3 separate regions of the Homo sapiens genome follow, and all the other regions are reported to be linked to region 3. The links are microRNA targets in miRTarBase. Many come from high-throughput screens and were not tested one by one. Region 3 holds a microRNA gene; each other region holds the end of a gene's coding sequence.
Evidence for each region. The annotated mature microRNA hsa-miR-4271 reads GGGGGAAGAAAAGGUGGGG and lies in region 3 at 1,524-1,542, opposite strand. An mRNA with a match to its seed (bases 2 to 7 or 8) in the 3' UTR can be bound and repressed. Matches are read on the target gene's strand: a 7mer-m8 pairs with bases 2 to 8, a 7mer-A1 pairs with bases 2 to 7 and ends in A, and an 8mer does both.

Region 1 (3,000 bases), not on the chromosome of region 3:
GGGAAGTGATTTATCCAAAGTCACACGACTGGCAGATGGCTTTAGGAGGCAGTGGGACTTCACAGGGCTTTGTAGCCTCATAGGGTGGAATTAGGAGAGAAAGGGAAGTGACTAGACCAGCAGAGCTAAGGCAGAGAGGAGGATGGTTTGAATACCAGGCTGAACATTGAGTTTTTTTCACATAGGCACTGGGAAAGATAAGCTAGAAAGTCATAAAAAAGGAGGTAGGGAGTTTTTGCCTACCTAGAAGTGTATGAGTGGGACATTTACTTTCTTTAAATTAGGGGCTATGTAGGATAGCCCCTAAGTTGCAGTGGGGTCGAGAGTGCTCTAGAGTTCCACACAAGGTAACCACTGTGCTTTTCTTCTGGTCTTCCTGCAGATATTCCACTGTTGAAAGAAGCATGAGGGCAGCGGCCAGCCTTTCCTCTCTGCGAGGTTCTCTCAGCCCTTCCTCCCTCTCCCTGTGGGATTGAGCACCCTGTACTCTCCAGCCACCTTACCTGGATACCTGAGCTGCCACCTGTGTATCTGTGTATCTCTGAGGGCCCTATAGGCCCACCTTGCTGGAAACTCAAGGAAGATTCTCGCCATCTGCCTGTTGGACAGCTGGAGGAGCTGGCTCTTTGCCTGGCCCCGCCTTCCCATCTGTCAGAGACATATTTGAATGTGCTGGATCAAACCCTCCCTTTTCCTAAGCCTCTGGGTCCCCTCCAGCCAGCTCTTTGGCGGCAGCCCCCACCAGCTCCTGTGGGCCTGAGTGCTGCTGTGTTTACTTGTGCCTTTCCCCCACCCTGTCCAGTTTCCCTGTCATGCAGACTTGTTGCTGTCCACAAGCCTTAGTGGCTGCACTGCTGCCCCCTGCCACACAGGGGGCCGGGCCTGGGTCTGTCCTGTTTCCTTTGAGGGTTGCCCCTACTGCCCTTTGCAGGAACAGATCCAGGTGTGAGAGCTCTTGAGTCAAGAGTGGCAGAAGTGGCTCTAATTGGGGTGAGAGTGTAGTCCCTGGGCTTGCCCTGGGTTGACCCTGGTGGCATATTTCCTTGGCTGAGGATGGAAGATTTGGAGAATCATGTCCATGCTGGCCCAGGACCCAGCCATCTGGCCCAAAGGCACAAGCTCCTGGCCCTGTTGAGTTGAGAGTTTCCAAGAAGCATCCAGAAGATCCCAAGGGAGAGAAGGAAAATGGCTGATAATGATTGTCTTCCTAATATGCAAGTTCTCACTTCCTACTTCCAGCATCGGCCTTCCTGGCCTTGTCTTTTTTTTGTTTCCCTGGAGTATAATGGGAAGTTGCATGCTGCCTCCTGGGTTTTATCCCAGATAGCTCTGGCTTTCTTGCTGCCCACAGGGGCCTGGGGCAGGAAGGAGACTTGCTGAGATGCCATGGAGTGCCCATCTGGTCACTGGCAGTCTGGGCAGGTTGCCCCTTTCTGGGTTTGTGGTGACGGAGGGGAGGCCGAGAGGCACAGACCAAGTCCCCGGGTGGCTGCAGGCAGCTCCAGCCCGGTCCTGAGGATCCTCCTCACCATGGTCACGTGCCTTAGTAACTGTGCCCAGGAAGTGGCCTGCTGCTTGCTGTGCTGCTGCTTTTCCTACTTCTGCCCTTCCCTGCCACCCCTCGCATGTCACAGCTGACAAGCAATTCCTTGTCTTCCCTGGCCCCCTGGGGGAAGGGCTGAGAAACAGTCCGTGTGCACCCCAACCTTAATGGCCTGAGGTGGGCAGAGGGGTGTGGAGCAGCCTGGAGTACAGGGCCCTGGGGGAGGAGCCCACTGATGAGGGGCGCTCTCCCATAGCCATGTGTTGAATGCTAACTAGGCTGGGGTGGACGAACTCTGCCAACTGCTGTCATCTTAGAAGATAGATGCAGCAGTAAGGAATGTTTGTTTTGCTTTTTTCTGAAATTTTCTGAAGCACTGTGGCTGGGAAACTTCGAAGCGGACCCTGTGCTGCATGTCTGCTCCTCCCCTGAGCCTGTCTGCTTGGGGGTGGTAAAAATAAAAATCCCAGTTTATTTTCAGTACCTTACCTAACAGGGTTGGCTCCAGGCGTGGGTGGCCTAGAAGATGAGGGGAGTGGTCTTCTCCCAGCCTTTTACCCTCTTGCCTCCTGCCTCCGCGCTTACACACGCACTTTACCACCCGGTCATTCCCTGGCCTCTTGCTGCCACTTGTAGTCTTCCTTCCTTCCTCTCAGGGTAAGGGCAGTGCCTGCTGTGCCTGTTGGCCACTCCCACACTTCCCCTCCCCCAGGAGCCCTCATCTGCTGTGCTGAGTCCAGGAAAGCATAGTTAGGTAGGGAGCTGGTTGGAGAAGGTGCTAGAACTAGAAGGCAGATGAGACTAGCATGGGCCCACCTGGAGGGCTGTCCCTAATGGCCCCAGTCGCCTTACCTCACCCACAGCAGTGCCCTTGTCTTCCTCCAAAACAGAAAGCAGTGACAAAAGGGGGAGGGGTGGTAATCTGAAGTCTCACTGCTGAGCCTTCAGCTTTTATTTTTCACTGTTTCAAAACCCGCATTCTATTCTAGAATGGTTTTTAAAATGGAAGATCTTACCTTTTTCTATCTTGTTACTCTGGGGTTTTGTCCCCCTAAGAGATTGCACTTTTTGTTTGGGGTTTATTCAGCTGCATAGATGACCAGCTTGATCCCTGGTGAAATGAAAAGCCTTCCTTCTCCTGAAGCCTCTTTCCGCCCTGCCCTCCACTAACAACACTGAGGAGCACAAGCCCAGGCTTGCCCACCTGGTAGGAAAGGAAGAAATTAGAACAATGGGAGCCTTGGCTCCCCTCTCGTCTCCTCCCCTCCTTCTTGTCACTGGCTTTGATGAGGCCCACTTCCCAGAGGCTCCTGGGCCTGTGAGTGCAGGAGCTCATTCTCCCCTCACTGCTGAAGTCTGTGACAGCTTCTTCCTCCAGTTATGTCTTTCTTCCAAAGCAATTTCTTAACCATCAGCCATGTGCTGCTATTTCTAGGGCTTCTGGGCTTTGTCCCTTA
Region 2 (3,342 bases), not on the chromosome of region 3:
CTGCCTGTATATCCTGAGGTGGCGTATCTCCCATATATATTCCAGCGTGAGCACCCCCAACAATATGTAGCCAAGGTTGTGTGTTCCCCTCCACCATATACACCTCCTGGCATGTATGTGTACCTCCCCCTATAGATAGTTTAGTCTGTGTATTTCCCTCCCCCTCCCCTATACGTGTACCCTGGTGCCTCTCCCTCCCTGAGCCCCACGTGTGTCACCCCTTTCTCCACCACAGAGTGAAGACCTCACAGGCCGAGTCGTGGAAGATATGGAGGGTGCTTCACAGGCCAACCAGCGGCGCATGAATGCAGACCCGTTGGAGGTGATGCTGCTCAACATGGGCTACCGGATCACGGGCCTGAGCAGTGGGGGTGCCGGGGCCTCTGATGATGAGGACAGCTCTGAGGGCCAGGTGCAGTGCCGGCCCAGCTAGACCCTCCAGCCCTGGTCCCCAGCCCCTGCTACTGGCTGGACCCTCTGCCCTGGGCAGGAGGTCAGGGGATTCTGTTTTGGTTTGTCTTCCCCACCACCCTTTTTTTTCATTTCCCCTGTTTTGTTTGTTAGTTTGGCGTTAGGGGTGGAGGTTGCTACAACTTGCTGGCTTTCGGACTCTGGGCTGATTGTCCCCTGACTATCCCCAGCCCTGAAAAAAAGAGCAGGAGGGGACACCCCTCCATATGCCCCCCCCCATCTCCTGCTTTCATGTCCCTGGAGGGCTCTGGCCTGCCTCAAAACCCCTTCTGCCTCAGGTGGGGAGGAACAAGCTGAACTGTCTTCAGGGACTGTCCTGCCCTTTAGCTGGCAGCAGCAGGAGGAGTGGGATTCCCAATTGGTAAGGGCTCGCCTTGGCCTGTTGCCACTCTTGCTCCCTAGCCTGCAAGGCTAGCTCCCCTGTGGTCTTCAGGAAAGGTTTTGAAAAAGGATGGGTCCCACCCTCCCTCCAGAGCCACCAGTGTTAGAGCGGAGCCCAAAGGAAGGATGGGAGCCCTGGAGTGGGCAAGACCAGGCCACCTGCTGAGGTCGCTGTGGAGCACCCTCGCTCCTCTCCTGGCTACTAGCTCTGGCCCTGCACCTACTCTCACTGGCCACCTCTGGAGGCTCTGCCTTTCCCAAGGGCCCTGGCAGAGGGTGGGGCACTGCACCTTACCCCACCCATCCATGCCAGCACTTCTGCACTACGGCCATTCTCCTCTTGGGCGCTCCTCAGCCTCACTGTGACCTTTCTGCCAGAGCTCCCAGCCAGGCCTACTCTGCTGAGGTGGCGCTTCCTGCTAAGGGCCCTTCTCTGCCCTTTCTGCCCTCCTTCCCATCCCACATGCTGAGCCGCCACAAAGACCAAAGAAGTGATGGCTTTTCTCTGTCCCCTGCTGCTCTGAGGGGAGAGGGGTGGGTCTCCTGAGCCACTCAGATGGGAAAGTCCCTTACTCGGCCCCTCCCTCCCCAGCAGCCCCAAGCTTTACACTGGATGCAGCGATCAACCCACCACTCACCAGGCCTCTCCTCCCCTCTGCCCCCGGCTCTTAGCTCCAGCTGCTCCAGGTAGTTGGTTCATCCTTCCCCCTCTCTCCCTCCCTGCTTCCCCTTCAGTGCTTACTTGGCTCCAGCCCTCCAGCTGCAGCCCCTGGGGAAAAGCAGCCTCCCTTCTCCTCTCCCTCCACTCCCTCGCTCCCTCCCTCAGCCCCTGTCTCTGCCAGGTGCCTCCTCTCAGTCAGGCTTCAGAGCAGCCCTGGAGACAGGAGGGCCATGTTAAAAGCTTTTTCACAGTTTTAAGAAGACAAGTGGAGGGTGAGGATAGTGGTGGGGGGTCTGGCACCATCTCATTGCTTTAATCCCAGCAACACAGGTGGCAGCTTCTCCCCCTTCCTTCCCACCCCAGTCCCTCTTCCCACCCCTCTCTTCTAGCTTGGTAATGAAGTATATTTATTGGTGAAGGAAACAGCTGCTGCTGCTTCTCCTGCTGCTGGGACCTGCTCCCCTGTCTCTTCTCCGTGACCTTTCTCTAGCCAGGGAGAAGGGAGAGCAGGAGTATTGGGGCTGGGCCCTGGGGCCCAAGGACCAGCTGGGTCCCCTTTGCTTTCTTGTGTTCCAGCCACCTGCCATTTCCTCCCTGCCTCCCACCCTCCCTCCCTGCCCCCTGTCCTGCTTCCCACCCCCTGCCTGCCCAGCCTGGGCCCTGCAGTGTGGAGAGACACATAAGCCTTACTGTCCTCTGGGGGCAGGAGCCGAGCCTTTTTGTTGCTCCGCTCCCAGGAGAGTGAGGGTGACGCAATTGATTAAAACCATTTTGTTCTAGGTGTGGCTGGTGGCATTTGTGGGGTGCAGATGGGTCTTGGAACCAAAGTGAGGGCACCTGGTCCCTCACCTCTGTAGCTCTATGACTTAGTAACCACACCTCTACTGGACAGAATGAGGCCTGCCTTGAAGGGTCACCGTGAGCAGCGGCCACCCAGCCCAGCAGGGCTGAGTGCAGAGCCCAGCTCTCATGGCTGTGATTTGTAATCATCAGCTTTCACTCTCTGGCTGTTTTCTCATCAGTAAAATAAGGGACTTGGAATCTTAGTGGTTTTTCAAACCATTTTACATTGTGACCCAATATACACATGATTACTTGTAGATATGTGTGTGTGTATATATATATAAAAAAAATGAACAAAAGTTTTACACAATAATATTTACCCTTGCTACATGCAGTGTACTCTGCTTACCCTTCTGTTTTATTAGGGAAAAAAATATGGCTATAACCCACTAAATTGATTTCACATATGCAAGTTTTTGAAGTGCCCTGGATTAGATAATCTCTTAGACTATAGGTTCCTGAACTTTCTTAGCTCACAGCACCATTACCATCTCAGTAATTTTTTCATGGAGCCTCTAAGCCAAAAGAAATAACAGTTCAATTTATTAAGTAGTTAAGTCCAAATCACTTAAAAAGTATTTATGTCCTAACAAGTTAGTTGCCATTTAAAAAATAATACACCTGAATTGGAAGAAACAATATTTATTTCATTCTTTTTTTTTTTTTTTTTTTTTGAGACGGAGTCTTGCTCTGTTGCCCAGGCTGGAGTGCAGTGGCATGATCTCAGCTCACTGCAACCACCGCCTCCCGGGTTCAAGTGATTCTCCTACCTCAGCCTCCCAAGTAGCTGGGATTACAGGCATGTGCCACCATGCCCAGCTATTTTTTTTTTTTTGCATTTTTATTTATTTTTTATTTTTTATTTTTTTTTTGAGACAGTTTCGTTTTTGTCGCCCAGGCTGGAGTGCAATTGTGCAATTGCGGCTCACTGCAACCTCCGCCTCCTGGGTTCAAGCGATTCTCCTGCCTCAGCCTCCCAAGTAGCT
Region 3 (3,342 bases):
AATTAGCCGGGCGTGGTGGCGGGCGCCTGTAGTCCCAGCTACTCGGGAGGCTGAGGCAGGAGAATGGCATGAACCCGGGAGGCGGAGCTTGCAGTGAGCCGAGATCACGCCACTGCACTCCAGCCTGGGCGACAGAGCGAGACTCCGTATCAAAAAAAAAAAAAAAAAAAAAAAAAAAAACTTCAAAGTTCTGCCATCTTGGCTGCTTCATAGGAAGGGGATAAAGAGGCCATTTAATTGGTTCAACTCCACAAGAATTTTTTTCCTTTCAACTCCACAAATATTTATATTGGTACTCATAAGCAGTGCAGGCCTTGCCGGGTGTGGTGGCACGCCTGTAATCTCAGCACTTTGGGAGGCTGAGGTGGGTGGATCGCTTGAGGTCTGGTGAAACCCCGTCTCCACTAAAAATACAAACATAAGCCGAGCGTGGTGGCGCGCGCCTATGATCCCAGCTACTTGGGAGGCCGAGGCAGGAGAATTGCTTGAATCCTGGAGGCAGAGGTTGCAGTGAGCTGAGATCTTGCCATGGCACTCCAGCCTGGGCAACAGAGCAAGACTCCATCTTAAAAAAAAAAAAATGCTGGGCACAGTGGCTCACGCCTGAATCCCAGCACTTTGAGAGGCTGAGGCGGATGAATCACCTGAGGTCAGGAGTTTGAGACCAGCCTGGCCAACATGGTGAAACCCCGTCTCTACTAAAAATAGAAAAATTAGCTGGGTGCCGTTGCGGCCGCCTGTAATCCCAGCTGCTCCAGAGGCTGAGACAGGAGAATCGCTTGAACCCAGGAGAAGGAGGTTGCGATGAGCCGAAATTGCGCCCTTGCACACCAGCCTGGGCGACAAGAGCAAGACTCTGTCTTTAAAACAAACAGGCCAGGCGCGGTGGTTCACTCCTGTAATCCCAGCACTTTGGAAGACTGAGGCGGGCAGATCACCTGAGGTCAGGAGTTCGAGACCAGCCTGGCCAACATGGTGAAACCCCCATCTCTACTAAAAATACAAAAATTAGCTGGGCGTGGTGGCAGGCGCCTGTAATCCCAGCTACTCAGGAGGCTGAGGCAGGAGAATCACTTGAACCTGGGAGGCAGAGGTTGCAGTGAGCCGTGATTGCGCCATTGCACTCCAGCCTGGGGGACAAAGCGAGACTTCATCTCAAAAAAATAAATAAAAAATAAAAATAAATAAATAAGTAAACAAATGCAGGCTGGGTGAGGTGGCTCATGCCCGTATTCCCAGCACTTTGGGAGGCTGAGGCGAGTGGATCGCCTGAGCCCAGGAGTTCGAGACCAGCCTGGGCAACATGGCTAAACCCTGTCTCTAAAAAAGAAAAAAATTTAATACAGTCTGCGATGCTCGTGAGTCATTATGGTAAAGCTGTTAGTCAATTTCTCCACTGATGTAGCAGTTTCCAATTGTCCTTTAATCAAAGCATAAATGACAAGGTCACCAGTAAGTTTTTGTCTTTGAGATTATCTAAAACTGAGTTTCCCTTCAATATTTTCTTGAAAGAGAATCTAATTCCCCACCTTTTCTTCCCCCCCACCTGGGGGCTGCAGGAAAGATATGGAGAGAGATTTGAAGGCTGACTCAAACATGCCACTCAACAATTCTAGCCAAGAGGTCACAAAGGATCTGCTTGATATGATTGGTGAGTACAGTGGGCAAGTCCATCCTGTCCTTGGGAAGATAGGTCCTTCACATGGGTCTGAGTCAGCAAATATCTCAGATATAAGAAATGCTCTCGGCCAGGCACGGTGGTTCATGCCTGTAATCCCAGCACTTTGGAAGGCCGAGGAGATCGAATCATGAGGTCAGGAGTTCAAGACCAGTCTAACCAATATGGTGAAACCCCGTCTCTACTAAAAATACAAAAATTAGCCAGGCGTGGTGGTGCACGCCGGTAATCCCAGCTACTCGGGAGGCCGAGGCAGGAGAATTGCTTGAACCCGGGAGGCAGAGGTTGCAGTGAGCTGAGATCTTGCCACTGCACTCCAGCCTGGGGGACAGAGTGAGACTCCCATCTCAAAAAAAAACAAAAAACACTCTCTTCTAGCTTGGGTACCATACATAGCGAGATCTGTCTCTTAAAATTTTTTTTAATTAGCTGGGCACAGTGGTGTGTGCCCATAATCCCAGCTACTAGGGAGGCTGAGGTGGAAGGATCACTTGAGCCCAGGAGTTCAAGCTATGATCATACCACTGTACTGCAGCCTGGGCAACTGTGCGAGACCTCATCTCAAAAGAAAAAACACCACCACCACTTTTTGGGGGGAGAGACAGAGTCTCATCATATTACCCAGGCTGGAGTGCAGTGGCACGATCACAGTTCACTGCAGCCTCAACCTCCCTGGGCTCAGGTGATCCTCCCAGCTCAGCCTCCCAAGTAGCCATAGTACTACACTAGTACTACAGGTGCACGCCACCATGATTGGCTAATATTTGTATTAGGGTTTTGCTGTGTTGTCCAGGCTGGTCTCGAACTCCTAGTCTCAAGTAATCCACTTACTGTGGCCTCCCAGTGCTGGGATCAGGCAAGAGCCACCACTCCCGGCCAAAACACTCTTATCTTTTTATTTGGTAGATGTTTTGCTCAGACTCTGCATTGATTAGGGAACTGAATGTTAACAAAACCTGTCCCTTCCCTCATACAACTGATTATCTTGTGAGGTGATAGATACATCAATCAGGTCATGTCATCAATGTTTAGATGCACTGAGTCCCTGAAGGCAAGGGATGGTGGCCACTAGGACATGGTGATTGAGCTTAAATTTTTAGGAAACAGGACATAGGCAAAAAGGAGAGAGTAATTTAGCTGGGGTCAGTAATTAAAGATTAGGAGAAAAGGGCTGGGCACAGTGGCTCACACCTTTAGTCCTAGCACTTTGGGAGGCTGAGGCGGGCAGATCACTTGAGGTCAGGAGTTCGAGATCAGCCTGGGCAACATGGCAAAACCCCTTCTCTACTAAAAACACAAAAAATTAGCCAGGCGTGGTGGTGCACACCTGTAATCCCAGCCACTTGGATGGCTGAGGCATGAGAATTGTTTCAACCCAGGAGGCAGAGGGCAGAGGTTGCAGTGAGCCGAGATCGCACCACTGCCCTCCAGCCTGGGTGACAGAATGAGACTCTGTCTCAAAAAAAAAAAAAAAAAAAAAAAAAAAAGATTAGGAGAAAAATTAGAAGTCAAAAGCTTTCCTATAATTCTACCACCCAGAGATAACCACTGTTAATATAGATATAGTATAGCATACATCCTGTCAGACTTTTTTTCTACATACAAATCTGAATGTCCTGTATGTGAACTACATGTGCTCTATTTTTTATTTTGTCTTTTTATTA

Region 1: miRTarBase lists SUSD6 as a target of hsa-miR-4271. Seed matches in the 3' UTR shown: 7mer-m8 at 2,241-2,247.
Region 2: miRTarBase lists WDTC1 as a target of hsa-miR-4271. Seed matches in the 3' UTR shown: 8mer at 519-526, 7mer-m8 at 1,554-1,560 and 7mer-m8 at 1,576-1,582.

The regions. Positions count from the first base shown.
Region 1 is chr14:69,710,572-69,713,571 of GRCh38, forward strand. It overlaps SUSD6 (sushi domain containing 6), which reads left to right. Exons shown (of 6, transcript NM_014734.4): 6 at 383-3,000. The coding sequence ends at 408. Among named protein-coding and RNA genes, the nearest start is that of SRSF5, 55 kb to the right of the region's middle. RefSeq lists an enhancer at 2,621-2,915.
Region 2 is chr1:27,305,951-27,309,292 of GRCh38, forward strand. It overlaps WDTC1 (WD and tetratricopeptide repeats 1), which reads left to right. Exons shown (of 16, transcript NM_001276252.2): 16 at 236-2,686. The coding sequence ends at 433. Among named protein-coding and RNA genes, the nearest start is that of TMEM222, 15 kb to the right of the region's middle. RefSeq lists enhancers at 1,306-1,831, 1,832-2,357, 2,358-2,882.
Region 3 is chr3:49,272,358-49,275,699 of GRCh38, reverse strand. MIR4271 (microRNA 4271) reads right to left here and starts at 1,580; the gene lies at 1,514-1,580. C3orf62 (chromosome 3 open reading frame 62) reads left to right here. Exons shown (of 3, transcript NM_198562.3): 2 at 1,560-1,651.